7 linked regions of the Homo sapiens genome follow. The protein of the gene in region 4 purifies or fractionates together with the protein of the main gene of each other region. This does not show direct contact. Each region holds a gene or a part of one and is shown on either strand. Other genes may lie near its edges. The genes, in order: SAP18, RBBP7, SMARCC2, CHD3, BCL11A, SIN3A and RBBP4.

Evidence for each region.
Region 1: the proteins of CHD3 (region 4) and SAP18 purify together in Homo sapiens (affinity purification with mass spectrometry; 2 studies listed by BioGRID, with this or other methods). This does not show direct contact.
Region 2: the proteins of CHD3 (region 4) and RBBP7 purify together in Homo sapiens (affinity purification with mass spectrometry; 8 studies listed by BioGRID and IntAct, with this or other methods). This does not show direct contact.
Region 3: the proteins of CHD3 (region 4) and SMARCC2 fractionate together in Homo sapiens (co-fractionation; 3 studies listed by BioGRID, with this or other methods). This does not show direct contact.
Region 5: the proteins of CHD3 (region 4) and BCL11A purify together in Homo sapiens (affinity purification with mass spectrometry; 3 studies listed by BioGRID). This does not show direct contact.
Region 6: the proteins of CHD3 (region 4) and SIN3A purify together in Homo sapiens (affinity purification with western blotting; 3 studies listed by BioGRID, with this or other methods). This does not show direct contact.
Region 7: the proteins of CHD3 (region 4) and RBBP4 purify together in Homo sapiens (affinity purification with mass spectrometry; 9 studies listed by BioGRID and IntAct, with this or other methods). This does not show direct contact.

The regions. Positions count from the first base shown.
Region 1 is NC_000013.11:21,145,815-21,150,071, forward strand, and holds the end of SAP18 (histone deacetylase complex subunit SAP18), read left to right. Parts: intron 1-990; coding exon 991-1,113; intron 1,114-1,371; coding exon 1,372-1,528; 3' UTR 1,529-3,283; downstream 3,284-4,257. UniProt on the Homo sapiens protein: Component of the SIN3-repressing complex. Enhances the ability of SIN3-HDAC1-mediated transcriptional repression. When tethered to the promoter, it can direct the formation of a repressive complex to core histone proteins.
Region 2 is NC_000023.11:16,863,389-16,867,905, reverse strand, and holds part of RBBP7 (histone-binding protein RBBP7), read left to right. Parts: intron 1-4,517. UniProt on the Homo sapiens protein: Core histone-binding subunit that may target chromatin remodeling factors, histone acetyltransferases and histone deacetylases to their histone substrates in a manner that is regulated by nucleosomal DNA.
Region 3 is NC_000012.12:56,168,518-56,172,496, forward strand, and holds part of SMARCC2 (SWI/SNF complex subunit SMARCC2), read right to left. Parts: intron 3,974-3,979; coding exon 3,911-3,973; intron 3,421-3,910; coding exon 3,162-3,420; intron 2,916-3,161; coding exon 2,754-2,915; intron 1,692-2,753; coding exon 1,627-1,691; intron 1,395-1,626; coding exon 1,259-1,394; intron 1,179-1,258; coding exon 1,012-1,178; intron 1-1,011. UniProt on the Homo sapiens protein: Involved in transcriptional activation and repression of select genes by chromatin remodeling (alteration of DNA-nucleosome topology).
Region 4 is NC_000017.11:7,905,414-7,909,930, forward strand, and holds part of CHD3 (chromodomain-helicase-DNA-binding protein 3), read left to right. Parts: intron 1-207; coding exon 208-293; intron 294-442; coding exon 443-576; intron 577-709; exon of another isoform or gene 710-847; intron 848-1,139; coding exon 1,140-1,284; intron 1,285-1,455; coding exon 1,456-1,618; intron 1,619-1,712; coding exon 1,713-1,834; intron 1,835-1,939; coding exon 1,940-2,075; intron 2,076-2,187; coding exon 2,188-2,289; intron 2,290-2,477; coding exon of another isoform or gene 2,478-2,480; coding exon 2,481-2,606; intron 2,607-2,988; coding exon 2,989-3,097; intron 3,098-3,283; coding exon 3,284-3,416; intron 3,417-3,729; coding exon 3,730-3,925; coding exon of another isoform or gene 3,926-3,971; intron 3,972-4,517.
Region 5 is NC_000002.12:60,462,816-60,467,332, reverse strand, and holds part of BCL11A (BCL11 transcription factor A), read left to right. Parts: intron 1-4,517. UniProt on the Homo sapiens protein: Transcription factor. Associated with the BAF SWI/SNF chromatin remodeling complex. Binds to the 5'-TGACCA-3' sequence motif in regulatory regions of target genes, including a distal promoter of the HBG1 hemoglobin subunit gamma-1 gene.
Region 6 is NC_000015.10:75,406,214-75,410,730, reverse strand, and holds part of SIN3A (paired amphipathic helix protein Sin3a), read left to right. Parts: intron 1-444; coding exon 445-597; intron 598-739; coding exon 740-895; intron 896-3,586; coding exon 3,587-3,676; intron 3,677-4,517. UniProt on the Homo sapiens protein: Acts as a transcriptional repressor. Corepressor for REST. Interacts with MXI1 to repress MYC responsive genes and antagonize MYC oncogenic activities. Also interacts with MXD1-MAX heterodimers to repress transcription by tethering SIN3A to DNA.
Region 7 is NC_000001.11:32,683,859-32,687,127, forward strand, and holds the end of RBBP4 (histone-binding protein RBBP4), read left to right. Parts: coding exon of another isoform or gene 1-231; 3' UTR 232-399; coding exon of another isoform or gene 400-524; 3' UTR 525-2,353; downstream 2,354-3,269. Other genes in the region: SYNC (syncoilin), read right to left, coding at 1-231, 400-524. UniProt on the Homo sapiens protein: Core histone-binding subunit that may target chromatin assembly factors, chromatin remodeling factors and histone deacetylases to their histone substrates in a manner that is regulated by nucleosomal DNA.

The sequences.
Region 1 (4,257 bases), on a different chromosome or scaffold from region 4:
GGCAAAAAAATGTATACTAGGTTATTTCTAAGATGCTTATATGTTAAAATATTTTTTTCAGATTGTTCTCTTATTAGCTCAGGGGACTATATGAAAGTTGGATTCAAGTCAATATTTGCAGGGTAAGAAACTATTGTGACAAGAGCCTGTGCTTCATTGTAAGAAACTTTTGTATATTTCATTGGCTCTAGTACTCTTATCTGTTGTAAAACTTACAATTCTATCTAAGAAAGAAGAAACACATCTGGCTGGGCGCAGTGGCTCACGCTTGTAATCAATCCCAGCACTTTGGGAGGCCAAGATAGGTGGATCACTTGAAGTCAGGAGTTCGAGACCAGCATGGCCAACATGGTGAAACCCTGTCTCTACTAAAAATAGAAAAATTACCTGGGCGTGGTGGTGGGCGTCTGTAATCCCAGCTACTCAGGAGGCTGAGGCAGGAGAATTGCTTGAACCTGGGAGGCGGAGGTTGCAGTGAGCTGAGGTCACGCCACTGCACTCTAGCCTGGGCGACAGAGCGAGACTCTCTCAAAAACAAAACGTCAGTATGAAAATGCTTTCCTAGTACATTGATTCTAAGATACATTCCAATTTCAGAGATGCTAAAATGTGGAAGGGTACATGTCTTAGAACTAATGGGATACATCTATTTTGCATATTTGGATTTATTTGGACTAGTTACCCTTAGGTAAATCACTAGGCCATAAGGTGTTGTGTAGCAACAGAAGATAGCATATAGAATCTCTGAAGTCCCTTTTAGCACTAAGAGTCTAATTAATTGAAATTTCCAGCAGTAAGGCTGGTACATGGAGTTTTTGGAGGCAAATAGTATTTTTAGCTGCTTTAAAATTAATCTCTAGTATAAGACCCTGGCAGTTTCTAATGTAAATCACAACTCAGATATATGTAATTAACTCATTGTTAGTATCCCTTTTAATATTATTGCTGATTAATAAGCAAATGTAAATGTCTTTTTTAAAAAAAATCCAGGATGGATGCAACCTTGAAAGAACTGACAAGCTTAGTAAAAGAAGTCTACCCAGAAGCTAGAAAGAAGGGCACTCACTTCAATTTTGCAATCGTTTTTACAGATGTTAAAAGACCTGGCTATCGGTAGGTAACTTCTCATTTTTAAGTCCTGTAATCTCTTTGTTTTTAGTATGTTTTAACTGATACAGATAACTCCTTCAATGAATCTTGTTAGTGGGAGAATATGGGTTTATATTAATACGTGGTTTGGCTTAATAAAGTAGTTAAATTTTGGAAGTGTGTTATAAAATGATGGAGAAAATCCAGTGCCATATTCACTTTGTAGTACATACTGGGTTTCATTGATTTGGATCCATTAACAGTTGATTTTCTTTCTTACAGAGTTAAGGAGATTGGCAGCACCATGTCTGGCAGAAAGGGGACTGATGATTCCATGACCCTGCAGTCGCAGAAGTTCCAGATAGGAGATTACTTGGACATAGCAATTACCCCTCCAAATCGGGCACCACCTCCTTCAGGGCGCATGAGACCATATTAAATTCTATTTACTATTTGTTGAATTTATTTTTCCGTCAGTTATGTAAAATAAACATACTCTTCTTCCTCCCCTGATTATTGCCATTAAGCCTTTAAATTCTAAACAAATTATAATGCATCATCTATTTAGGAGTTAGATTTGGATGTGCTATTGTATGATTACGAATAGTCTGTATGTTTCAAGCCCTTCTGTAAAATATGAAGAAAAGTGCTCTTAGCATTCTGTGTAAAACTGTACTGTTAAATATATGTGTGTAATCAGCCTGAGTGTGAAAGTTAATGGAGGCCTGGGAACAGGGTTTATACTAAGTAGTGGAGGAGCGTATGGTTAAGCCCAAAGGGGCAGAACAAGAAAGCCACGGGATTGTATGAAATCAAACATGAGTTTGTGGTGTAGACTGCTGTATGCAGTTGGAAAGGACACGTGAGAGTGAGCTCAAGTGGCAGCAGAGGCAGTTTGGAATAAGCTGCGGCAAGTTGAAGAAGCTGTGTTGGACGAGATTGCCCCGCCTTGATCAGGGTACCATGACATAAAAGGTTAAAGAACAGGCAACACAATGAGCACTTAAGTTTTTAACATGTGGGGAATAGGGCATTTTAAAGGCTGGAACCAGTTCAGAGGAAACAAGGGTTTGGGTAGAGGTAGAAAGGTTTAATTAACCCTGGAGATCTGCAAATGGAGGGAGGGGTGAAGGAGGAATCTTAAGACCGAGGGAGAAGAGCCAAGGACAAGGTCAGGTTGAATGAGTAGGAGGTGTTCACACATCCTCTTGTGTGCTAGGTAGTGGCGTGCATCTGATCTGAGAGGCAGTAAAGCAGTGATGAAGACAGTGCAGCAGAACATTGAAGTCCTGATTGCAGCAGTGACTCTGCAACCTTGGATAAATTATTTCAATCTTTATTTTGTAAAACGGAGATAACGGCCTATAGGATTGTTAAGACTGAATATTTTAAAAGAGCTTAGAATGGTGCCTGACAAATGAGAAACAATAAATACTGATTATTGGCCATAAAGTGGTATTAAAACTGGATCTCTTTTCTTCCATGGCACTACTCTCATTTTGAAGTTTATGAACAGTACGACAGTGTATTGTAAATTCCCTTTAGTTTGTTACAGTAGCCAATTGAAAATGTATATCCCAAAATTTAAAAAAAAAAGTACCAGCAGCAATAAAATTGCACTAGTTTTATCTGGTACATACAAAAACAGCCATTTAAAATCTGATGATTCTGTGGAATTGGTGTCCCTGTTAGCAATGGCAGAGACCAGCCTGGAGCCTAGATCTGGTGCTTCTTCTGTGCTGTGGTTTACCCCAAACCTTTAGGTTGTTTATTCATTCAGATTAGATAGACTGGAGCCATAAAGTTAATTTGCACCTAGCTTTTTGGAGAATAGCCATGATTAACTGCTATTCGTGGTGGGGGTGGGGGGGAACCCTATGATTTACTATGCAGATGAAGAGGGTAGGAACTAAATAAAGGACTTTGTAAGCCAAAGTGGTTGGGCTGCTTTGTCAAATTCCACCCTTTGCTTGGTTCCAACATGGAATTTCTCCTTTAAAGATTTCAATATCCCATCAAAAGTACAGTTAGAGAATACCTAGTGAATTTATTGAATATAATGCTAAGAATCAAAAGACTTGTACTAGTTTACCTCTGGCTTTGGTAAGTGTGGCTTTGAGTAATAACTGAGCTGTTTCCCCGCATATAAAATAGAAATAAATAAGTAGTCATCATGACAGCATCTTGCTCAGTGCTTTAGTGTCTGCCCTGGTTGCCTCATTTGCTCCTAGGTATTTTGGAATTGACGTTTTCCCTTTGGAATATGTGTTACAGTACATGATATTGCCTATAATGTCTTTTTAGTTTTTCACGGTGTACAAAAACTGGGACGGTTATGCCCAGCTGATCATTGACTCAGGTAATGTTTTAGGTATCGGTTGTATGCATGTGAGGGGCAGGTGTGAATGTAGAAAGAAACATTATTAGGCTAGGTTTAAAATTCTCTAAAGTTGAACATAATAAGGAGCTGAACTTGATGCACCTCTTTCTTGTTCAATTAAACACATTTCAGACTTGTTTTTGTGAAATAGAAGGCAACACTCTAAATCAAGTTTGTAACTATGATTTAAGTGTTTACTTGTGCCAAACACAGATGGTTCCCAAGTTATGATAGTTCAACTTTAGATTTTTCAGCTTTGCAGTGGCGCATAAGCGATAAGCCATTCACTACGGTCCTCAGCTTATTATGGGGCTACATCCCAATAAACCAGCTGCCAACTGAACATCTTATAAGTAGAAAGGGCACTTCTGACTTAGGATATTTTCAACTCATGATGAGTTTATCCAGACATGACCCCCTAAGTAAGGAACATTGATACTGTGCTGAGGAACAACTTTACCAGCATTACCTCATGTAACCACAACTGAGATACAGTGACTATAGTTGCTATTTATAGGTGACAATGAGGCCCAGATTGAGGGGCTACTTTAACAGCTCAAAAATGGGGCATTGGACCTAGGTAGCCAAAAATAGAGGATTAGTTGAAACATTTCCAGAAATAATGTTCTTTCATACTCAGTTTCTTATAGTCTGGCATCCACCCACACTACACTGACACACTATTCTTGTAGTGATGTTATTCCCTACAAGTAGCAATTTTTGCCTGGTTATCTAAAGTAGACCTCTTCAGTTTTTAAACTCAAAATGCCTCTCAAAAAAAAAATATG
Region 2 (4,517 bases), on a different chromosome or scaffold from region 4:
CAAAACCAGCCCAGGCAACAAGGTGAAATCCCATCTCTACTAAAATACCAAAAAAAAAAAAAAACCGGGCGTGGCAGCGTGTACCTGTAGTCCTAGCTACAGGCTACAGGGAGGCAGAGGCAGGAGAATTGCTTGAACCTGGGAGGCGGAGGTTGCAGTGAGCCAACATCGCACCACTGCACTCCAGCCTGGGCGAGAGCGAGACTCCATCTCTTAAAAATAAAAATAATTATTATAATAATAATCTAATGTATATAAAACTGCTCTTACAGTGGCCGGGTTCTCCATATGCAAACATTGATTTCTATACAGATAGGAATTTCCACTAGGCTTCCCAAAAATCTAAATATAAATGTACAGATGTGGGAAGAGTAGAGAAGAACTAAATGATGGAGACTTGGAAGCATTGACGTTTACAGCCACAACAGATTGAAAAATAGATTAAGCATCATATACTCGGGTATTCAAGTTCTGGTTTGGAGCATCGTGTGCATTTGCCTCTTTGGTCTGTTAAGCAGATTTAAAATGTATTAACTAAATTTACCTTTTGGGGGATCTTTTTGACCCACTGTAACATAATAGAAAACAGCAGGGGCTTTAAACTTAGAGACCTGGGTTAAAATCATGCCCCTACTTCTTAGCTTCATGAACTGGGGCCGTGTTGTCTGGGCTGTAAATGGAGATGTTGGTCATACTGACTACCTACATTTGAGGGAATGAAATAAGATCATGCATGTTAAAGTGCCTGGTGCAGCATAAGTACACGGTAAGTGGTGACTGATGCTGATTCTCCCACCCCTTCCTGTTCAGAAATAATTTGTCAGGATTGAAATAGCTCTGTTTCTTCATTTGGATTTCAATGAAAGCTACTTGCTGAAGTTTTTTTTAAAAAAATGTTACCTATAATATGTAATACTTAGGAATGTAACAAAATGCTTTAATTAAATTATTTAATGTGTATCATGGTGTTCTTTGTATACAAAGCTGTTGTGGGATTGGGTTGTGGGATGTGCAGTGGCTTAGAGAATGTAAGAAAATGCCAAGCAGCCTGCATTCTTGGATGTTGAGGATTGTTGTGTGGTGCTTTGCAGGGTTCAGTTTGGGGTATAAAGGGACTGTGTTTTATCACCATACAGAACAGTAAAAATGTTGACTATTCTCAATGCCTGACTCTGAGGAACAAGATCCTACTCCACCTCATAGGCCTTTCTTCTGCTGACTTACAACATGCTTCATAACGATTACTTGGACTTTCTTAGCTATTGTCCTTCAATTGAGTTAGGTAATTGTCCAAATAATTGATTTGGCTGGCTGGCTTGCTTTCTTGCTTTCTTGCTTTCTTTCTTTCTTTTTTTTTTTTTTTTTTTTTTTTTTTTTTTTTTGAGACAGTCTCGCTCTGTCTCCCAGGCTGGAGTGCAGTGGCACCATCTTGGCTCACTGCAGCCTCCACCTCCCGGGTTCAAGCGATTCTCCTGCCTCAGCCTCCTGAGTAGCTGGGATTACAGGTTTGTGCCACCACACCCAGCTAATTGTTGTATTTTTGGTAAAGACAGGGTTTCACTATGTTGGTCAGGCTGGTCTCAAACTCCTGACCTCGTGATCCGCCCGCCTCGGCCTCCCAGAGTGCTGGGATTACAGGTGTTGATTTGGCTTTTAAAAGGTTTTATTTAAGTATCTCTAAGAAATTTGTTTTAATTAGATAGTTATTTCATATCTCTTGTTGAATAATGTCTTAAATATATTGAGACTAACTTATTGTCTACCTAAAAAGCTTTGTAATTTTTCAAATTCAGGAAGTATAAAAGGACATAGAGTGAAGAATAAGTCCCCTTTCCACATCCCTTACTGTCCTACTTCCTTTCCCCAGTCATTGTTTTCAATTTCCTAACCCATCCTTGCCAGCGTGTAGAAGTGCATACCTGTATCTTCATTTTTTATGGTAGCAAGTTCTTCACTTGAGTTTGTCAGTAAGAGTATGTATTGGAGATTTTCCTGTCAGCATGCTTGGATATGCTTGTTCTTTTCAAGAGTGCCATAGAATTTTGTTTATGGATACACTGTGTAATGTATGATACCAGTTCCTTGCTGATGGATACTTAGTTATTTTCAGTCTTTTTCCTTCTATAAACAATACTGCTGAGAATAATCTTGCAATAGGCCAGATTTATGTGATGCTTGGCTAAATTTCCTAGTGGTAGTTACTGGGGTCAAAGGATTCTGCACTGAAAATGAATAGGCTTTCTTAACCATTAGTCCTTCTGCAGCCTTTAGGTACATCCAGTATTGGAGGAAAATAGTGTCATATTGATTAGTTTAGGAAAACAGGCTGTGTTTTAATGATGGAGGTGAAGGGATTTCTAGTAAAAAGAAAAGTCCTCATATGATGATCAAGTTGGGGAAAACTGGAATAATTAAATTTGAGTCCAGAGGGATTTTTAAGCTCCTCCAGTCCGTCTTGGGACAGTGTTCCTTAGAAAGGGCCTGTGATAAACTGACCTACCTGTTATTTTTTACTTGTTGGTCTTAGTTTTCCTGCTCAACTCCACAAAAAACAAGTGACTTTTTTCCTTTGATGACAGTACCAGCATTGCTCTGTGGTGCCTTCTTTCTCTCAAGCATTATTATTTCTCTTTTTAAATATTTATTTAAATTTTTGTTTTTTGTTTTTGTGTTTTTTGTTTTTTGTGGAGATGGGATTTTGCCACGTTGCCCAGGCTGGTCTCGAAGTCCTGGGTTCAAGCAATCCGCTTGCCTTGGCTTCCCAAAGTGCTGGGATTAGAGGCGTGAGCCACCACATCCGGCCAAATATTTATTCTTTTTTTTTTTTTTTTTTTTTTTTTTTGAGACAGGGTCTTGCTATGTTGCCCAGGCTGGACATGAACTCCTAGGCTCAAGCAGTCTTCCGTAGTAGCCCTAGTAGCTGGTACTACGGGTGCACAGCACTGCACCTGGCTTACCCTTTCATTTTAAGCCACTATTCCCTGTAAAGGTTTGATTTTTATCCAAGTCCTCATAAAGTATGTTGCTTAGAGCCTAATTTTAATGGTTTTACTGGTTAAAAATAAGTGGGCAAGCCAGATATGGTGGCACACATCTGTAGTCCCAGCTGCTGAAGAGGTTGATGTAGGAGGATCAACTTGAGTCCAGGAGTTGGAGGCCAGCCTGGGCAACATAGTGAGACCTTGTCTCTTAAAAAAAGAAAAGGTCGGGGGTGGGGGGCACATGTGCTCATGTGCATTGCCCCCTACATACATATAAAGACCACCTAAGATGGAATTAATTAATTTTTTGATAGCCACATCATATTCTTGGCCCACTGTGCATGTATCAACCAAGACCCATGTTTTCTTTCTTTTTCTTTTTTTTTTTTTTTTTTTTTGGAGACGGAGTTTCACTCGTTGCCCAGGCTGGAGTGCAATGGTGTGATCTTGAGATCTTGACTCACCACAACCTCCACCTCCCAGGTTCAAGTGATTCTCCTGCCTCCGCCTCCTGAGTAGCTGGGATTACAGGCATGCGCCACCATGCCCGGCTAATTTTGTATTTTTAATAGAGATGGGGTTTCTCCACGTTGGCTAGGCTGGTCTCGAACTCCTGACCTCAGGTGATCCGCCTGCCTTGGCCTCCTAAAGTGCTGGGATTACAGGCGTGAGCCACGGCGCCCATTTGTCTTTTTTTCAAACACGTTGCTATTGCTTAGTCACGGCTGCCTTACTCTGTTTTGGGGGGAGTGTGTCTGTGTGTGTGTGTGTCTCTTCTCCATGTGCACACACTTTTTTACCGTAAGCCAAATTTTGGTAAAATTGCATCTTGTATTTTCTTATTACTAAATTACTTGCCTAGAAGTAATCTTCAATCTTTTTAGAAAAAAAAAAAAAATTGAATCCTTTGTGCAGCTGAAATTTAGAAACAGATAAATGGCCTAACTTGTCTTGTGTTAGGGCCTAGACCCCTACTTCTCAGTCCTCTTCATTGAAGTGGGACCATGGAGCACAGTTGAAAATTGTATTCTAGATAATACAAATGGGAAAGCCTTTTTAATAGATACTGATGCAAAAATCACTGCTCGGACCAAGGTGCCAAGAGGTTTGGGCAAGTTCTTCAGCCTCAAGGTGTTTCCACAGAACAAGGTAACAAAGATACCTCGGTAAAATTGAGAATGTTCGTTTCATAAACTTAGGTATCATAAACGTCAGTGAGTTTCACATCATGCCATTTGCACTTATAGCCTATTTTATTCAGTGAAGAAACTGAGGCCCCAGGGAGGTTGTGTTTTAAGCAACTGCATTTTAGTTTGATCCAGGATTTAAGCTAAGTTTTTTTGATTCAACACTTTCTGTCCATACTACCTTGTAGAATTTCTTATTGGGAAATAAGAAACATCTAGTGTATAAGATATTTTTAGGTGGGAAGAAGATTTCTTTAGGTGGGAAGTTGTGATTTATGAGTGTGGGGATTGTTGGTGGATTCCTGTGTAGATGTTTGTCTGTGTTTACTGAGTTGGGCCTACCTTCCCC
Region 3 (3,979 bases), on a different chromosome or scaffold from region 4:
ACATGCGCCACCACGCCGGCTAATTTCTGTGTTTTTAGTAGAGATGGGGTTTCACCATGTTGGCCAGGCTGGTCTCAAACTTACAACCTCAGGTGATCCACCTGCCTCAGCCTCCCAAAGTCCTGGGATTACACGCGTGAGCCACTGCGCCCAGCCTTTTTAAAAAATTAAATTATTTTGGCCAGGTGTGATGGCTCATGCCTGTAATCCCAGCGCTTTGGGAGGCTAAGGCGAGCAGATCACTTGAGTCCAGGAGTTTGAGACCAGCCTGGGGCAACAGGGTGAAACCCCATCTCTGCTAAAAATACAAAAATTAACCGGGCATGCTGGCACGTGCCTGTAATCCTAGCTACTTGGGAGGCTGAGGTGGGAGAATCGCTTGAACCTGGGAGGTGGAGGTTGCAGTGAGCCGAGATTGTGCCACTGCACTCCAGCCTGGGCAACAGAGTGAGACTCCATCTCAAAAAATACATAAATAAATAAACAAGCATGGAGGCTGGGCACGGTGGCTCACGCCTGTAATTCCAGCAGTTTGGGAGGCCAAAGCGGGTGGATCACCTGAGGTTAGGAGTTCAAGACCAGCCTGGCCAACATGGTGAAACCCCATCTCTACTAAAAATACAAAGAGTTAGCCAGGCGTGGTGTAGCACGCCTGTAGTCCCAGCTACTCGGGAGGCTGAGGCAGGAGAATCACTTGAACTTGGGAGGTGGAGGCTGCAGTGAGCCGAGATCTGACAGAGCAAGACTCCGTCTCAAAAGAAGAACATGGAGATAGTGTGGCAAAGGGTAACATGGAGTCAAATACTGACAGGGTTGAAAACAGGCCCAATGGTGATATATTTTTTAAAGCTTAGAGAAGGGATGACTAACTTTACCTCCTCCTGAGATAAAAATAAAAAATAAATAGGTCAGCATTATTTAAGGTGTGAGTGAGGAAAGATTTCCTCTAAGTGAGATGAGATTAGAGAAGTGGACATTTTCTTCCCTGAGGTCTTCAAGGTCTGGCCTCACCTTAGCTTTCACTGCGGCGGCGGCCAGGGCGGCGGCAGCAGCGGTGGAGAGGTTGCCCTCGCCAATGTCCCGCTCCACCTTTGTCTTCCTTTCCCCCTCAGACTCCACCACTTCCTTCAGCACTTCCTCCTGCCCTTCCTTTGGCTCCTTCTCCTTCTCAGGATCGACTGGGCCAGGACAAGGGTTGAGTTAGCCCCACAGCTTCACCTCTGTCCTGCACCCCCACCTACCCTTGTGGGAGGCTCACCTATTGGGTCTCCATCACTCTTCTCGGACTCCTTCTCACTGTCGCCTTCTTTCCCTTTCTCCTCATCCTTCTTGGGAGCCTCGCTGGTTTTCTCTTTTGCTTCCTCCTCTATAGCACCCCCTCCTTCTCGGGGTTCCTGAAATTCCAGTGATAGAAAAGGAGAGTTATCAGGGATTAGGGTGATTAGTTCTCACACAGAGGGGCCAGACGGGGAACTAAATTTATTCCTCTTACTTTGGAGGTGATCTGATTCTAGGAGACAACCCCGTCCAAAACCAGCCCTTGCCCACCTAAGCTGAACAAGGCCAACTTCCCCATCACCACAGTGCTGCACGCAGCCCCTGCAGCTTCCAGAAATCCCTCTATACCTTGGGCTCCTTCTTCTCATCTGTGGCCTGGCCTTCCACCCGAGCCTCGTCATTCCCGCTCTCCTCTGGGCCCATGAGAAAAGAAAGAAAACAGGAAATGTTTAATACACAGTCGTCTGTGTCTAACACTTTTCTTTTTTTTTAGAGACAGGGTCTTGCTGTGTTGCCCAGGTTGGTCTCAAACTCCTGGGCCCACGCAATCCTCCCACCTCAGCCTCCTGAGCAGCTTGGACTATGGGTGTGAGCCGTTGCACCCAGCTTCTCCATAACACCTGTTTTTTTTTGTTTTTTGTTTTTTTGTGACAGGGTCTCACTCTTGTCGCCCAGGCTGGAGTGCAGTAGCACAATCATGGCTCACTGCAGCCTTGACTTCCCAGGCTCAAGTGGTTCTCTCACCTCAGCCTCCTGTGTATCTGGGGCTACAGGCGCATGCCACCATGCCTGGCTAACTTTTTTGGTATTTTTTGTAGAGACGGGATTTTGCCATGTTGCCCAGACTGGTCTCAAACCATCTGCCCACCTCAGCCTCCCAAAGTACTGGGATTACAGGCATGAGCCACTGCACCCAGCCTTCACAAGACTTTTTTTTTTTTTTTTTTTTTTTTGAGAGACGAAGTCTTGCTCTGTTGCCCAGGCTGGAGTGCAGTGGCTTGATCTTGGCTCACTGCAACCTCTGGCACCCAGGTTTAAGTGATTCTCCTGCCTCAGCCTCTGAAGTAGCTGGGATTACAGGCACGTGCCACCACGCCCAGCTAATTTTTGTATATTTAGTAGAGACAGGGTTTCAGCATCTTGGCCAGGCTGGTCTTGAACTCCCGACCTCGTGATCCACCCACCTCGGCCTCCCAAAGTGCTGAGATTACAGGCATGAGCCACTGCGCCCGGCCTTCACAAGACTTTTCTAACAGCCCCTTCTACAAGCAAAGATTTTTCTACCCAAAATCTTCATGAGAGGACTAGTAGGGCTCCAGAGCCCCTGAGGTAAACTCATGGGGAAAATAAAAACCCTACCAATGTTCTCATTCATGTTGTGCTCTAATGCCAACTTGAGGCAGAAATGGCACAGGAGGCCAGGTAGCTCTGGATCTTGTGAAAGGCAAGAAATCTGGGAACCTGCCTGGCCTTACCAATCCGCTCAGGCTCATCAGAGGTGGTTCCTGCAATGCCACTGCTTTCCAGACCGAAGGCAGGGTCCGCCTTGCCTGTTACTTTGGCTGCTTCTTCCACTTTTCGAACATGGGCCTCCACCAAGGCCGTGGGTACCTCTTCCTTCATTTTGGAGAACTCCTCTGCAAGACCCAGAAAGAATGAGGCTGGGAGCGGCACAGTGGAACAGTTCTGGCAATCCCTGCAAAAGCTTACTCACAAGCCCATGTCTTCATCTAAGCTAGTATGGAGCCTAGACAGGTGCCTGAGCTGAGGCCCGCACAGACAAGGCCAGCAGGGCAGCCAAACTTGAGAGGATTCACAGTCTGAGTAACTAGCCCTTCAAAAGCAAACTAAGAAGGCCAGGTGGAACCACCCACCCCCATTACCTAGGGCTGACTTTGCAGCAGCAGAGGCGACTCGGGGATCGACGACAGAGGCCAGGAAGGCAACAGTGCTCATAACAGGGTTGCCCGACTGACTGAAGGGGATGGGTTGGTAGGCCAGGGGGCCTAGGGAGGCCTCTGAGTCCTCCAGGTATGGGTCTTCAATGGGAAGACGAAGAAAATGCAAGATGCACTCGTCCTGTGTGCGGCTTCCCACATGCTCGGACACTTTGTTCCAGTCATCTTTGTACATTTCCAGTGCCTGGTGGTAGTGGTGGAGACATAACTCCGCTTACTTAGCCACTTTTCTCGAAGGCTGACTCCCCCCATCCTACTAAGGGCAGCTGGTTTCAAAGTTCTCTATGTTCTGGTATTTGTGTACTCTGCTAGGTCCAAGGGGGATCTTGAAGTAGCACTAAGAAAGGATATGAAGTTAATGAAATGGCCCAAATCCCCAGCCTGGAGCTGGTCCTGAAGCTCACTGGAGCCTTGACCTCCTAGGCTCAAGCAATCCTCCCACTTAGCCTCCTGAGTAGCTGGGACCACAGGTGTGTGCCACCACACCTGGCTAATTTTTAAAATTTTTCGTAGAGACGGAGTCTCACTATGTTGCCCAGGTTCATCTCGAACTCCTGGACTCAAGTGATCCTCCTGCCTTGGCCTCCCAAAGTGCTGGGATTACAGGCGTGAGCCTCTACACGGAGCCCACTTCTGTTTTCAGAGAAAAACTCTCTTTTCTTTGCCCCAATTACCTCCAGGAGAAGCAGGGTTTCCTGTTCTGTCCACTCACGAGTGGCACTGGCTGCAGCCTTGCTCTGCAG
Region 4 (4,517 bases):
AGATATCAGCTGTTAATTTTAAAATATGACTGGTTCTTTTAGACTTAGTGGGTTAGTAGTTCTGAAGTGCTTGGGAGAGAATTGGGAGCACCTCAAACGTGACAGGAATGTTCCTGTGTTGTGTATCTTGTGGGAATGGGGTGCTAAGGAGGACTGAGGCTTAGAGGAGGTGGTGGCTCAGCTAACTGATGTCATCCCCACCCTCAGGGCGTAGACAGTCAAAGAGGCAGCTCCGGAATGAGAAAGATAAGCCACTGCCTCCACTGCTGGCCCGAGTCGGGGGCAACATTGAGGTGAGAGCTGGGCCCAGTGTTCCTGAGTTCTCCAAGAGGGCATGAGGGCAGGAGGTTGGAAGTTGGTGCCTGGATCACTGAAGGTAGAAAGGACAAGACCTAAGAACCCTAGACATTTGTCGCCATTGCCTCCTTGCTCCCACCCTCAGGTGCTGGGCTTCAACACCCGTCAGCGGAAGGCTTTCCTCAATGCTGTGATGCGCTGGGGGATGCCACCACAGGATGCCTTCACCACACAGTGGCTGGTGCGGGACCTGAGGGGCAAGACTGAGAAGGAGTTTAAGTGAGTGTGGGTGATACAGGGCTGAGTTGGACGCAAGGGGAAGAGCTTTGGGTGTTCCTTTCTTCCTTGGGGCCGCCATATGATGTGACCTTACTCAACTGATTATCACCCTCCCTGTCATACAATACTTCCTGGCTCGATTTCCTGGGGGGTGGTCTCAGCCCACTCCACCTCCCCTCAGCCGAGCCTAGAGTAGAGGGGCCAGGCATCCTCCCCAGGGGAGGGGCGTTGAAGCAAGGAGCCTCTCCTGGGCTGTCCTAGCCTCACATTTACTTGACCACAATAACCTGGCAGGAGGAGCTGGTGGAAAGGATGAAGAGCTGACTGATGGGGCCCAGGAATTAAGTACCAAGGCCAAAGGGAAAGACCCAGGGGTGGGGCGCAGGGGGACAGTTAGGACTTGGAGGGCTGGTAATGGTGAGAGTGAGAGGCCCAGGGGAGGAGCCCTGGAGCACCTGGGGATTTGGGGGTTTGGGGGTCCTCAGTCATCCTCGCGCCTCCCTCACTGCCCTATACCCCTTCTGTGGCTCCCCTAACCCTCCTCCCACTCCCATGCTCCTTAGGGCCTATGTGTCTTTGTTCATGCGCCATCTGTGTGAGCCTGGGGCAGACGGCTCTGAAACCTTTGCCGATGGGGTCCCTCGGGAGGGACTGAGTCGCCAGCAGGTGTTGACCCGCATTGGAGTCATGTCTCTCGTCAAAAAGAAGGTATCAGTCTTCCTGTCACCCAAAGAATCAAGCTGGCTGCCTAGTCTCTGTCCTTCCTCTGCCTCTGTCCCTGAGTTGTAAGCTTGCGCTGGTGTGAGACGGAGGAGACTGGAGCTTCCTGTCTGTAAGCGCCTGGAGCTGACACCTAACCCTCCCACCCTGCCACCCCAGGTGCAGGAGTTTGAGCACATCAATGGGCGTTGGTCAATGCCGGAACTGATGCCTGACCCCAGCGCCGATTCTAAGCGCTCCTCCAGAGCCTCCTCTCCTACCAAAACGTCTCCCACCACTCCTGAGGCTTCTGCTACCAACAGTCCCTGCACCTCTAAACCTGGTAATCAGAAGTCAGGATGGTGGGAGAGACAGAAAGGGAGCCAGGAGTCAGGGCGGGAGAATCTCTGTCTTTATCACTGTGCCTTCCCCTGCAGCTACTCCAGCTCCAAGTGAGAAAGGAGAAGGCATAAGGACACCTCTTGAGAAGGAGGAAGCTGAAAACCAGGAGGAAAAGCCAGAGAAGAACAGCAGAATTGGGGAGAAGATGGAGACAGAGGTGTGTGGCTCCCTGGATTCCCCTGTGGAGCGGGAGGGGAGGGGGCTTGGAGGCCAGGTACCTGGGAGCCCTCTGGCTCATCCTGACCCCATTGTCCTCTTCCAGGCTGATGCCCCCAGCCCAGCCCCATCACTTGGGGAGCGGCTGGAGCCAAGGAAGATTCCTCTAGAGGATGAGGTGCCAGGGGTGCCTGGAGAGATGGAGCCTGAACCTGGGTACCGTGGGGACAGAGAGAAGTCAGGTGGGTGCATGGCCTTAGGAGTGATGGGGGATTAGAATTTGGGATTTCCCTCTTCTGGGGTCAGGGGATGAGGGTAACATCCTCCCTTCCTATCCCCTACCCCCTCCCACAGCCACAGAGTCGACGCCAGGAGAAAGGGGGGAGGAGAAGCCGTTGGATGGACAGGAACACAGGGAGAGGCCGGAGGGGGAAACAGGGGATTTGGGCAAGAGAGGTAATGGGTGGAAGGGACCGGACACCTGGGTCCCAGAGGGCATCAGGGGAGGTGGAGTCTGGGGAACCGAATGCTTGGGTCCTGGGCGGGTAGCTGTTTGAAAGGCCAGTACAGTACAGTACAGATAGTAGTCTTGGGACCTGGGAGGAGGGTGTCCTGAGGTGTGAGCTTTGACCTGTCTGTCCTAGCAGAAGATGTAAAAGGTGACCGGGAGCTTCGACCAGGGCCTCGAGATGAGCCACGGTCCAATGGGCGACGAGAGGAAAAGACAGAGAAGCCCCGGTTCATGTTCAATATCGCCGATGGTGGCTTCACAGGTTGGGGAGACTCTCGCTGCTTTCTGCTCCTCAAGGGGATCTGCTCATCCTCATGGGGTTTCTCGTTTTGCCTGAGGCTTCCTGCTACCTTTAATTCCAAGTAACTTCCAATGAAGTATGTTGCATGCTGACTCCGATCCTTGCTCTAAATCTTTCTTAAGTATCCCTCTTAACTCCAAAGCTGGCCCTAATCCCACCTTTATTCTTAATTCTAACGAACCTGGTTAGAACTGAGTTTGTTCCAAACCTAACCTTTACCCATTCCTCTTCAGGAGCCCTTAGTTCCCTTTCATTATTCAGTTTCTCCATCTCTACCTGTCTGTTGGACTGAGTGCAGTCTGCAAAACCCTGTTACCTCTTCTGTCTGCTGCCTTCTTTGCAGAGCTTCACACACTGTGGCAGAATGAGGAACGGGCAGCTATTTCCTCGGGGAAACTCAATGAGATCTGGCACAGAAGACATGACTATTGGCTTCTGGCTGGGATTGTCCTGTATCCTTTGATACACATGCAAGAAGGAAAAGGTTCTCTCAAGCTGGCAAAAAAAAAAAAGATGATTTCACACCCAGGGACAGGGCTAGTGCCACACTTTGGGGAGTCAAGCCAAAAGGAAGAAGTGTTCAAAGCCAAGCCCATTCCTGTTAAATTCCTTGATGGTTCCTTTTCCTTCATTGGTAGCCATGGCTATGCACGGTGGCAGGACATCCAGAATGATGCTCAATTTGCCATTATCAACGAGCCATTTAAAACTGAAGCCAATAAGGGGAACTTTCTGGAGATGAAAAATAAGTTCCTGGCCCGGAGGTTCAAGGTGGGAATGAGGGAGGAAAGGAGCGGGTTATAGACGGGCTTGGGTCAGAAGTGAGACCAGATCTAGTTGGAACCTAGGGAAGGTTAACACCTTCAGGGCTGAGGTGATACCTGGGGCCAAGACCAAAGTGTAACCTTGTGCTTGGGAGTGTGATCTGGGTCAGGGTTGCTGCTAGGTTCGCAGTCGGTTTGGAGCTGGGAGTGCCCTGGGCCAGCAGTGAGGGCAGGGTGGGTCTCTTGCTATGTCCGCCCCCCCAGCCCCTCACCCACTGCTGGCAGAGCCCTACCTTCACCTCCCAACTCTGTGCCCTCAGCTCCTGGAGCAGGCGCTGGTGATTGAGGAGCAGCTGCGGCGGGCGGCCTACCTGAACCTGTCGCAGGAGCCGGCGCACCCCGCCATGGCCCTCCACGCCCGCTTCGCCGAGGCCGAGTGCCTGGCCGAGAGCCACCAGCACCTCTCCAAGGAGTCGCTGGCGGGGAACAAGCCGGCCAACGCCGTCCTGCACAAGGGTAAGGGCCGCGGCGGCCCCGCGCGGGGGAGGGCCCACAACGCTGCGTAAGTCTTCACCCCGCACCCCTCAAAATCTTCCCACCCCCTGACCCCTCTACCTGCTGAACCATCCCCCTCTGACCTCTAACCCCACTCCTACCGACCTGGCACCCCCTTGGATTTTAGCCTCTAGGACTTGTGCAAGCCAACCCTCATCCATGTCTGATAGCATTCACATCCGTGCCCAATAGAGGGACCTGCCCCAGCCTCTGTGTCCCCTCCACACAGTGGGGCCTCTTCACTGGCAGTGGAACTGCATGCCTGCCATACTGCTTAACATCATCCAGTTAGGGGCCTTGGACTGTGAATGCACCATACAGATCCCTGGCTGTGATCAAACAAATCACATTCCCTCACATGTGTTTCACCCCATAAGGCAGAAACTACCACCCATCCAACCCTCTGGCCTTACCCCATGAAACTTCCCTTTGACCTTCGACCTTTCCTCCTACCCCCTCTCACCTTGCCATTGATAGAGATTATATCCCAAAGCCCTCTAACCATCTAATCCTGCCTGGTGTAGTCACTGACTCCTGGCCCCTTTGATCCCTG
Region 5 (4,517 bases), on a different chromosome or scaffold from region 4:
TACCACCACCACCACCATCACCACCACCACCATTACCACCACCATCACTACCACCACCACCACCATCACCACCACCACCATTACCACCACCATCACTACCACCACCACCATCACCAGTACCATCACCGCCATCACCACCACCATCACCACCACCACCACCACCATCACCACCACCACCACCACCATCACCACCAACACCACCATCACCACCACCACCACCACTACCACCACCATCATCACCACCACCACCACCACCACCACTGCCACCACCATTTACTTGTTCAAGTGAGCTTTTATAGTAGGGACCATTTTATGAAACTTAAATTTGTCCATTTATACAAATGTTTTCTGAAAGATACTGTTTTAGAAAATAATACAGTTTGCTTCTCTGTGTAGGAACACATGGTATGAATCATGCATGGCTAAAAGGTTAGGGGGTGGGCAGTGATTCCACCCTAAACACAAAAAAGCAGGTTCAAGAAGAAAAGAAGTGTGACATCTAATTTTTATTTGAAAGTAAATGAAAAATAACCTGCTGTGGAAAGAAAAAAAAAGAAAAGGAAAAAGGTCATGGAGAGAGAATAACAAAGAGCAAGATGCCAGAGTTAAGGCTCTAAGGGGGACTGTTTTTAGATGGGAGGGAGATGACACTTACCCATCTTGTAAATGGTATCTGAAGAGCAGGGCATGCACCCTGAGACCAGATTCAAAGCCAGTTGTTTATTTTTGTTAACTCCTAGGTAATCCTAGGTAACAAAGAGTTATTGTGTGAATTTCATAAGCCCTCAGGTCCTGAGGGCTGGGTGGTTCAGGGGTTAAAAGCACCTCATCTGCTCCCTTCCCCCAAGCTGGGCCTAAGCCTGGGTTAGGTCACAGATTGCAGAAGGTTTAGGAGGTTGGGCTCACGGTTTCTAGTCCCTGCATGCTGGCTGGGTGGGGAGAGCTCTCCTGTTGCTGGGGGCATCTGGGGCCTGCATGGGGCTGTGGAAACGGAGCCACTTTTGGAGGGAAGGGATAGAAGGGAGTTGAGCAGTTCAGAGGAGGGTGGAGTTGAGAGGCCAAGGGCTGTTGCCAGGGAAACATAGTTCTCGGTCTTCAGCCTGGTCTTCCTGAGGGCTGGGAGTTTGATTTGACTGGTAGGAAAGTCTGAGCTTGATAGGGAACCCCTGTCCTCTCCCACCTTCCCACAAAGGGAGGGTACATAGTTTGCTGGTGCCCCTGCTGGCAGGACCAATTTAGGAGTGACCAGAACAAGGTATGTGGAAGTGGGTTGTGGGGGTCCAGAAAGCTCTAGAACAAACCTGATGCCCATTCCACTTGGCGGCATTAACCTGCTGCCCCTGGCTTCCAGAGCTCATAGCACTTCCCTGTGGCCACTCTGCTGTGTGCCAGTCACCCCTGCTCTTTAACTAGAGCCTCCTTTTGGCCTGGGTTAAGGCCTGGACTGGGACCTTCCTCTGGAAGCCGTTCGGGGTGTGTAATGTGGTTAGTCATTACCCTCAGTAATTAATCACCCCTGGTAGTAATGAAAACTCACATTCACATTCGACCTGATAGTTTACAGAGGGCTTTTATATACTTCTGTCATTTGAACTTCCCAACAATTCTTACAGGTACTGTTTTTATGCTCATTTTACAGATAGGAATTCCAAGACTCAGAGAAATCAAATGACTATCCCAGAGTTACAATCTAGTGGATAATAGAGCTAGGCCTCCAGTCTCAGACCTCCTTGTTCTTCTGAATCTTGAGGCTTAGATCACATGACTTTTTCACATTGGTGACATACTAGAAATGGGGGTCATTCCTTCCCATAAAGTAAAATGAAATAAAATAAAAGCCAGTAGGTGGGCTAATAGCTGATTTTAACCCTTTTGATGTCTCAAGTTCCTATGCTTAGGGGCCAGGTGTCAGTTTATTGCTCTAAATCAAAACAATCCCCGTAAATGCCCAATGAGGCTCTCAAATTGAGAAGTTGATTTTCATCAGAGTAAATGAAGAATATTATTATATTTTACACATCAATAAATCAATGTAGCCCTAATTTTGCCACACAGGAAATCAATTCCAGTCTTTCTAAATCATCAAAGATGTTATGAACAAAGTAATTTCACAAATTATGGCAAGTAACACATTTATTGATGACTGCAGTTTAGGAATTTAGAATCTGTGAGCACTGTAATATAATATGGTACACCGGCATGAGCTGAGTGAAATACAGATTATATGGTGAAATTGTAATGCATCATTTGCTATTAGTGGACTGGTAATAATTACCAGTTTCAAAGCAGCTCTCTCCATGTAATCTTTAGTCTCAATCGTAACAGCCCTTCTCATTGACATTATGATTACACTAGCTGCCCTCATGATCTAGAATATCTAGTTGATGGGAATACTAAAATGCGATAGTGAAAACTGTATGTTGTATGCTCATTATAAGATAAAATGCCATTTTCTCTGACCTGATGTATGAGAGAGAGGGGAGGATAACATCACAGTGTTAACATACTGTAGCATGATCACATAACTGGCTCTGAAAAAAAGTTTAGGATGCTCAGGGCAGCAAAATAAAATGGACTTTTCTCATTTAAGCCTTTTTGAAAGGATACAAATGAGATCCTTGATGTAGTGCTGTATGCCACAGATTTTGGCATTTATCAATGACTACAATTCATGGCACATGTGAAACCAGCACCACTAATTATGAGTCTAGTCCTGGATTTCAATCGATGTTTTATAAGGTAAAATATAATTTTAAGGCATTTGGAGTGATGAACGTGTTAAGGACTTGGATTATCAGACAAATCTTTTTACTTGCCCAACTCAGATCGTCAGGCTAAATAGGAATGATAGTCACCCAGAGATCTAGGGAGGACAAGGAGGAAGCCACAGAGGATCATGTAGTTGGAACCAGATAGTTTTTTTTCCAGCCTATTTGGGACCCAAGTTATTGTTCAACAACAACAAAAAATTTATAAAAATGTTCTCAATGAAGCTTTTTATTTCCCTTTGAAGAGAGGAGGCAAACAAAAATAGGCAGATAATGTGATACTAATGTCAGCGTTTTCTTTCAAAATCTTTCTGCCTTTTTTCCCCCTTCCACATTAGACAAATGTTTGAAACCTAATTTTGGTATCTTACCATCTAATCTTGTTTAAGAGATTTACCCAGGAGTGAGATATATTGAGTGGGATTATAAATGCGTTGTAAAGTAAATTACAAGGTCAGGGCAGGAGTCCATTATTTAGACAAGTGCTTGAGCGAGGCTGGCTTATTTTGGAATACCAGTGTTTGGGGGCTCCTGAGAAGACCCTGCCGGCTTTTCTTTCTGACTTGCTAAATGGAGGCATCATATAATTGATTAATTCCTCATTCTCACTCTTAACCTCCCTGGTAGATTTTTTTTTTTTTTCCTTCTTAGAAAGTTACTGACAAATACTAGCTGTGGCCTTAAAGAACTCTTGCAGCCCTTCTTTTAAAAGAAGGAGAAAAGTTTGTTATTTCTCAGTTATATTTTAAGGCTTTTTTTTTCAGAATCTCTGGGAAGTTTTGTTTTTCTCATCCTCGTCCTTTGGCTACCATTACTTCTGCCCTTTTTAATGTTGCAGTTGACTAGTAAACTGTTGGTCAGTTATTCCATATATATATATATTTAATGTAGCTATCTCCCCATATATATTTAATTTAGCCATCTCCCCAAATGAAATATTTTGTGAAGTCAAGCTGGCCCTTCTTTGCCAAAGTGGCATTTACCACTCTTGGGTTCTTTTCAGCAAGGGAAATAATGTGACTTAAGCAGGGCCCCTCTCCAGACGGCTTGGCTACTGGCCAGAGTTGACTAGCTGAACTGTATCTTTCTGTTTCTTTCTCAACTGGAGCTGAGTCCCAGCCGAGGGCGCAGGATGTTGTATAATTTGGTTCACGTTGTTAGCCTCTCAAAACAATGAGGAGGAGGATAGTGTAGCATTTCTCAGCCTGCTGCCTGTCATGGCGCTGGCTGTTTTAACTGTTCCTTAAACTAGGATGCTGTGTCTGCTTAAGTCGGCACCAGCCACTCCTCCTAACTTTTCCAGACTTGCATTTGTCTGACCGGGGGACAACTCCTAAAGATTGGATACAGCCTATCCGTTAAATCTGAATGAAGTTTTTCTTTCAGATTTTTTAAACATTCTTTGAGATAAAAATGGACGTCCCCATGGGGTGTTGTGGAACCAAAATTGGGACTCACTGATCCTCCCACAGTCTGGGGTGTGAGAATGTTGCTAGTCTTTTTTCCACGGAAGTATTTTATGAGTACCCTCTCATTTTAACAATATCAACAATTAGTGTGTTTCAGGCTAATGCTGAAAGCATCTTTAGGGCCATAGAACATTGTAGTGAGTTGACCTTCTTCCCCTTTTTTGATACCTCTATGAAATGTTTGCCTATTTAGAAAGTTCACCTGTCACCCAGGGGGGAATAGAAAGCTGGGATTTAGGAAGCCAAAAAGTTTCCTTGGGTCACCTTGTCCAAGTTTCTC
Region 6 (4,517 bases), on a different chromosome or scaffold from region 4:
ACTCAGTTTTATCTGGGACAGTTAGATGGTGATTTATATAGTCTAGTTAATGTACAGTAGGAGGAGGAGAAATTTCTAAGGTTTTGTCAGTTGGTAGTGGTCCCCTGGGCATTAATATTTATTGCCCTAGGCCGGGCATGGTGTCTCACGCCTGTAATCCCAGTACTTTGGGAGGCCGAGACAAGTGCACTCCAGCCTGAGCAACAAGAGTGAAACTCCGTCTCAAAAATATTTACTACCCTAGTTTTGAAAGGAATTGTCATCCACCATCTTCAACTTTTTTTTTTTCTCAACTTGAAAGTCTGTGGTCAGAACGGGTGCTAAGAACATAGACTTTCTTCTTACATGCAGCCTAAATAGATAACAGTGATTCCAGAAAGCGTGCAAAGATGAGTGACTCAAAACAGTAGCCCAAATGATCTCTTTTCATTTGCAATTCCTCAGAAAGAGCAGAGAAATGCCAAGGAAGCTGGAGGAAACTACACTCCAGCATTGACAGAGCAGGAGGTGTATGCCCAGGTTGCTCGTCTCTTTAAAAACCAGGAAGATTTGTTGTCAGAGTTTGGACAATTCCTACCAGATGCCAACAGCTCCGTGGTATGTTTTTTTAATAAGAATTACACTATTTACTATTATTATCTTAGATGAGTTGGAAAACTGTGCTCAGAAGGGGACTTTTCCTAGATGATATTTGTTTGCTTTGATAAGAGCATTAATCTCATTCATGTGTCTTAATCAGCTTTTAAGCAAAACAACTGCTGAGAAGGTTGATTCTGTGAGAAATGATCATGGAGGCACTGTCAAGAAGCCCCAACTGAACAACAAGCCGCAGAGGCCCAGCCAGAATGGCTGCCAGATCCGCAGACATCCTACAGGAACCACCCCTCCAGTTAAGGTGAGAATGGGCAGCAGCTGCTCATTTTGACACTCACAAGTATTTCTAATGGAGAGGTACTCTAGAGGTGGTCATGTGTTTTGTTGTTGTTGTTTTTTTTTGTTTTTTTGAGACCGAGTCTCGCTCTGTCGCCCAAGCTGGAGTGCAGTGGCACGATCTCGGCTCACTGCAACCTCTGCCTCCCGGGTTCAAGCGATTCTCCTGTCTCGCCCTCCCGAGTAGCTGGGACTACAGGCGCATGCCACCATACCGGGCTGATTTTTTTTTTTTTTTAGTGGAGACGGGGTTTCACCGTGTTAGCCAGGATGGTCTCGATCTCCTGACCTCATGATCTGCCCGCCTCGGCCTCCCAAAGTGCTGGGATTACCTGTGCCCGGCAGTCATGTGTTCTTAAGTGTGTTAACGGTTGGGTCCTAGATATTTGGAGGAAGTTAGTATTGTGTCACAGAAACTCAGTGCAGAGTTTATCTGGCTTTGCAAAAGAGTATTAGAATAACATTGATTGCTTGGATTACTGTACTTTTCTGAGTTCTTTATTATCTCTCCTTTGCAATGAGCTGTCATTTCTTTAATGTTTTGGTTGCTACTAAGAATTTCCAATACTTGAAATTTTTTTCCCTTCTTTTTTTTTTGAGATGGAGTCTTGCTCTGTCGCCCAGGCTGGAGTGCAGTGGTGTGATCTCAGCTCACTACAACCTCTGCCTCCCGGGTTCAAGCAATTATCCTGCCGCAGCCTCCTGAGTAACTGGGACTACAGGCGTGTGCCACCACGCCCAGCTAATTTTTGCATTTTTAGTAGAGATGGGGTTTCGCCATGTTGGCCAGGCTGGTCTTGAACTCCTGACCTCAGGTGATCCACCCACCTCGGCCTCCCAAAGTGCTGGAATTACAGGCGTGAGCCACCGCGCCTGGCCCCTTCTTCTTTGATGCTTTAAATCTGCCTTGTGTTAAGAAAGAACATTCTTGAGCTTGAGAATTATTTCAGAAATAAGTGGTCTCTGAGGTCCTCTTGTGAGTAGAGTGCATGTGTTTTTTGAGATCTCTGGTCTAGAACCCTGTCCTGCTCAAAGTTCTTTGTTGGGTTACCAGATCTTATGTGTATCATCTTAATCTCCAAGGCAGGACCTTTGGGCTGTAGCAGAGGGAAGTCTTAAACTCCTCTTAGTAATCCATTACATGATGTTTTTTGTTATAGTTAACACTGATGGTCTGCCTGCAGAAAACTTAGCTTGCTCCCTTCTTTGATGTAACACAGCTATGATAGGGAGAGGGCTAGTTGTATGTATTGAATGTTTAATTCTTCAGTGAATTTCAAAGCAGTATGTAATATAGAAGAGACAGATATGTCTGCAGAATTAAATAATGACAAAAGTTTGGGAATTTCTAATAGTAAGAGGTGGCTGATGAATAGTGATTGACTGACTACAAGGTCTGACGTACTAGGTGTTACTGACACTTTTGAAGTATCCTTTTCATTAGTGTTTGTCATGGTTTCTTCTTTTGAAATCTTTTGAAATCAAGTTGAACATAATAATGGTTTCTATTTCTTCATTTCAATAAAGAGAATTAGTTATATGGGTAGCAAGAATCAGCTCAGTAGATACACTCCATGCTTGGATTTACGTCCGCCCACTCTTGATTACCTACAGGTGGCAAGAATATAGTGGGGGCTTAAAATTCTCCGCCTACTTTCTCCATAGGCAGTGTAAGCAGAGGCTGCGGCTCTTAAGAAAGTATACTCTGAGATAGCCAAGGTAAATGTGCTACTTCTCACAAAGTTTGTGCATTTCTTCATAGAGAGTAAGTGGTGGATTTTAAAAGTAACTTCTTGCCTGACAGGATTATATCATGGCCTGTTGGTTCCCTTTAGAAGAACAATATTAAATTAGTCTGAGTGGATATTGCTGGCGTGCCTTTTTTTTTTTTTTTTTTTTTTTTTTTTTGAGATGGAGTCTCACTCTGTTGCCCAGGCTGGAGTGCAGTGGCGTGATCTCGGCTCACTGCAGCCTCCACCTCCTGGGTTCAAGCGATTCTTCTGTCTCAGCCTCCTGAGTAGCTGGGACCATAGGCGCACACTACCACGCCCAGCTAATTTTTTTGTATTTTTAGTAGAGACGGGGTTTCACCATGTTGGCCAGGATGGTCTCAATCTCTTGACCTCATGATCTGCCCACCTTGGCCTCCCAAAGTGCTGGGATTACAGGCATGAGTCACCATGCCCAGCAAATTATGCTTTTTAAGTAAATTTTTAATTGAAATATTATTCAGGGTTAAAGATTGATTTCTGTCAATTTGTGAGCTCTTTTTACAAACAGCCTTTTCTCCCTCAGCTGGTAGGAGAACAAAACAGTGGCATTAGATTCTACATGAAGTTACTTTGGGCCCCTAGAAAAAGTAAGGATATTCTAAAAGTTTGTCACAGTAATGTCATGATCATTTCTGGAGAAAATATTTTGGGGGTAGAATGATCTTTGAACCTCTGTTGTAGAAAGAAACTTAATAGGCAAACTGAAATAGAAAATATGAGTTGAAATCTTAGAGGGTATGGAGTGAGTTGGTTAGAGTTCTCTCATTTGTTTCAAATTATTAATCAGCAGTGGTTTCAGTGATGAAACCATTGAATACAGACAAAAATAAAATTCAGAGAAAACCACTCGTTGAATCTCACATGTTTGTATCTTTCTTTTGCAGAAGAAACCCAAACTGCTCAATCTGAAGGATTCTTCTATGGCAGATGCCAGCAAACATGGTGGTGGAACAGAATCGTTATTTTTTGATAAGGTGAGTAATGGATGAGTTAGATTTGATAGTGCCTGTTAATGCCAAAAGAAAATCATCTTATCCCCCTGGAAGGTTTCGTTTTAAAGGTGTCAGGCTAATTAGGACTTTCTGTTTTTTAACATAGTTTCCCAGTTGTGAGTCCTTTGAGTCTGCTAGTACTATTAGCATAGCTAGAAAAATGGTAGCATTGTTTGCTTTGGTTTTATGAAGCAGTTTGGGGCAGAAGACAGATTTTTAGAAAATGTATTATGTTTCTCTTGAAAGATGTTTGGAGCTCCCATTGTAGATATCCAGGTCTGTGTGGCAGGCAGTACCAGTGCCTGTACCAATTTTTGAGGATTTAAGATGACTTGTAATCTTTTTTTTTTTGAGACGGAGTCTCGCTGTCGCCCAGGCTGGAGTGCAGTGGCGCAATCTCGGCTCACTGCAGGCTCCGCCTCCTGGGGTTCACGCCATTCTCCTGCCTCAGCCTCCCGAGTAGCTAGGACTACAGGCGCCCACCACCTCGCCCGGCTAATTTTTTGTATTTTTAGTAGAGACGGGGTTTCACCGTGTTAGCCAGGATGGTCTCGATCTCCTGACCTCGTGATCCGCCCGCCTCGGCCTCCCAAAGTGCTGGGATTACAGGCGTGAGCCACCGCGCCTGGCCGATGACTTGTAATCTTATTGCTGTGATAGTTATTTGTAGTACACACATACATAGCATTCAGGGGAATTCTAATTTACTTGCATGTTTTCAAAGCTACCCAGCTGATTCTAATGAGCAACGAGAGTTGAGATTATTGGCATAAATGATGTTGTGTGGTGCCTTAGTTTGGCCACATAAACTTAAGTGTGATTT
Region 7 (3,269 bases), on a different chromosome or scaffold from region 4:
CTGACTCCAGGTGATCCACCCTCCTCAGCCTCCCAAAGTGCTAGGATTACAGGCGTGAGCCACCCCGTCCGGCCTGTTTTTAAGGCATTAATTAGTATTGTTAGGAAAGCAGTAACAATGCAAACACCACTCTTCTCTTCACAAAGATCACCTTGAGACTGTGTCTCCATTCCACCTGCCTGAGAAGTGGGAGCATCAGCCTGTTCCAGGCTCTTGGGTAGTAGCATAGCCCTTTAAAAAGAGAGAGCCATTTTCCATGTGTTTTTGGATAAGCACAATTTGAAAATCATTTCCCAAATCCTCTTTTTGTTTTTGATTCTAAGGTAAAATTTTCCCTAAGCCCTCCCACCATCCCCTCAGCCAGTATTAGATGAGATTTGTATAGCAGCAGAAACTGACTTATAAGTAGAGAGCTCTTCAGCAAGACTGAGCCTTAGCTGTTCCATCTCTTTGTTCTTCTGTTGCTGGAGTTGCACCCCATTTCTTAACTGCCTCTGGCGTTCTTCCATTTCCTCCAGCTGTTCCTGCATGAGATGGCCAAGAACATTTCTAATGAGCCAAACAATAAAAACTCACATTGTCCACTCTTACTTATAAAACACTTTTTTGTTCATTGTTTAATCTTGATAGCAGTATTGAGGCTGGTATTTATATGATAGGTTATGAAACAGGTTCAAAGAAGTTGTGTCTTGGAAAAAAAGTGACAATGCTTTTGAAAATGATGACGAAAAAGGCATCTTGTCTGTTAACCACAGCTTGCTTTAATAGAATCCTGGGAGGGTGATTGGGACTTTTTAGTATTACAACCTTAGTGTCATTGAGGAGGATTTTGGTCTAGTTAGTGGGCTGAGTTTCATATACCTCTCCCTCCATGTGCAGGTTTGTTAAGATAATTGGTAGTTTTTAATAATATAAAATACTTAAGTTGAAATACAAAAGTGTGGCAACAATTATTAAATATTGGCTAGAATTCTAGGAGAGTTACACAACTAGTGGAAGTCCATGTTTAGAAAATAAATGGCTTGTTTAAGGAAAAGTTTTTGTGTCCAAAGCTCCTTAAAGTCAGAGAGATTTCTACCTGGTACTTAACATCATATGGAAATTGATGCTTTAGTGAGGGTGTTGGCTATCCTATTGCTAATTTCCTGCATCCTTTTTTCTTCTTTATTTTTGTATAGAGACAGGGTCTCGCTATGTTGCCCAGGCTGGTCTTGTTCCTGGGCTCAAGCAGTCCTCCCGCCTCGGTCTCCCAAAGTGCTGGGATTACAGGTGTGAGCCACTGTGCCCAGCTTATCCTTTTTTCATTACACAAAAAGACTGAATTTGGTTAGTTCTAAGTTGGAAGATAAAGATGGTATGCACAGGAGGCCCTTGGGAGCCCTCAGATAACTTTCTCATTCTTCCAGAATCAGGCTGGGATGCATTCTGTAAATTTTCCCTGCCTAGGATGTATACCTGAGGAATAAGGTAAGGAAGATGTCAGCAAGTCAGTCTCTGGTTTACCTGCTAGCTGGCATGGATCCTTAAGGAAGCAGGAGGGAGTTGGGAAGAGAGGAAGGGGTGAAGTTGGTATCTTTTAAAGCGAGAGTGATTTTACCTCAGATTTTGAAGAATACTAAGGAATCCAGTTGTTGGGGTACATGCTATTATTAGAAGGATCTAGATAATTTGTCCTCTGAGTCATACTTGACATTGTACCTGTGGCACATCAATCCGCACTGTTTGATACTCTGGCTGAATCTCAGCTTTCACCAACATTGTCAAAGGACCTTTTTTAGTGCCCAGCCATGCCTAAGAGTGTGTCATCTGAAGAGGGAAGCATCTGCATACTGCTGTCCTGATTGCTCAGTCCTCACTACCTACCAGACCCGTTGGTAAGGTACAAAAGTACATGCTTGGAAAAGCAGTCTGCACCACCAGTGATAAGCTGTGACAGAGTGGAACAGCCTCAATGAAATGAAGGAAGGATTGCTACAGTGGCATTAAGGATGGTCTCTTAATCCTGTGTTAACCACTAGATTAACTTTACAATCAACTCAAAATCCTTCAAAGGCTTTCCACTTTCTTTAGTGGCATTCAGACCCCCTCTAGTTTGACCCCTACCTCCAACTTGAACCTCTGTTACTCTTCCGTATGAACATTTTCCTCTAGCCCTGGACTACTAGTACCGAAGTCACTAGTCACATAGGACTCATTTGAAATATGACTAGTCTCAATTGAGATGTAATGTAAGTGTAAAATACACAGCAGATTTCTAAGACAGCACACAAAATGTAAAATATGTCAAAAATATTTGATACTGATTACATGTTGAAATATATGTGTTGGGTTAAATAAAATGCATTAAAGTTAATTTCATCTGTTTCTTTTTTTAATAGAGCTACCAGAACATTTAAAATGACATCTGTGGCTTGCTTGCAGTGATAGACAGCACTACTCTAGCCTAACAACTCAGATCTGTGTGCCTGTGTTCCTGCCACTTTTTTCACCTAGACAGCCAGTCCCTTGTTTTCTGCTGCCTTCTACCTAGATACTAATTTCTCAAGGGCCAGGACATGTCTGTCTACAGTTGCCCCAGCACTTGCATTGACAGCATTGCCAGTTTTAATTTTCTACATAGGACAAAGACAAAGAAAGGATACATTCCCCAACTCAGGAAAAGGGGAACTGCTACAGCAATAGTAGTATAAAGTAACAGGTGCTGTGGAAACAGGAGGGTTATCTGTCGCACACTAAGGATATCGGGAAACTTCAGGAAGAAGGGAAATGGGTTTAAAGGATGAGTAAAGAGTTAAAGGGGAAGAAGAGGTCTAATCAATGTATAGTCATGGAATTGTGGGAAAGTGGCTTACTAGTTCATTCCTTGCAACCCTATGGATATGGGAGTATTATTAATCTCATGTTTCATGTGAGGGTGCTGAGCCACAGAGCTTAAGTAATTTGTCCAAAGTTTCCAACTTAGTGATAGAGCCAGGATTTGCCATTGGCTTAGAGCTCATACTCAAGGTAACAGGCTTTTTAGTGGTTCTCAAACTTTTCTGTGCAACCCCAAAAGCTGGCCAAATTGGAGTGCCCTTGGTACTTTTCCGTTAGAGAATAACTCCGCTTTTAACTGCTTTATATATTGCATTCTATGTAAAATTATCTGGGGGAGAAGGTCCACAGCTTTAGAGAAAACTTTAGTTTTGGAAACCACTAGTCTAAAGAATACATAAAACTGGCCAGGCACAGTGGCTCATGCCTGTAATCTCAGCATTTTGGGAGGTTGA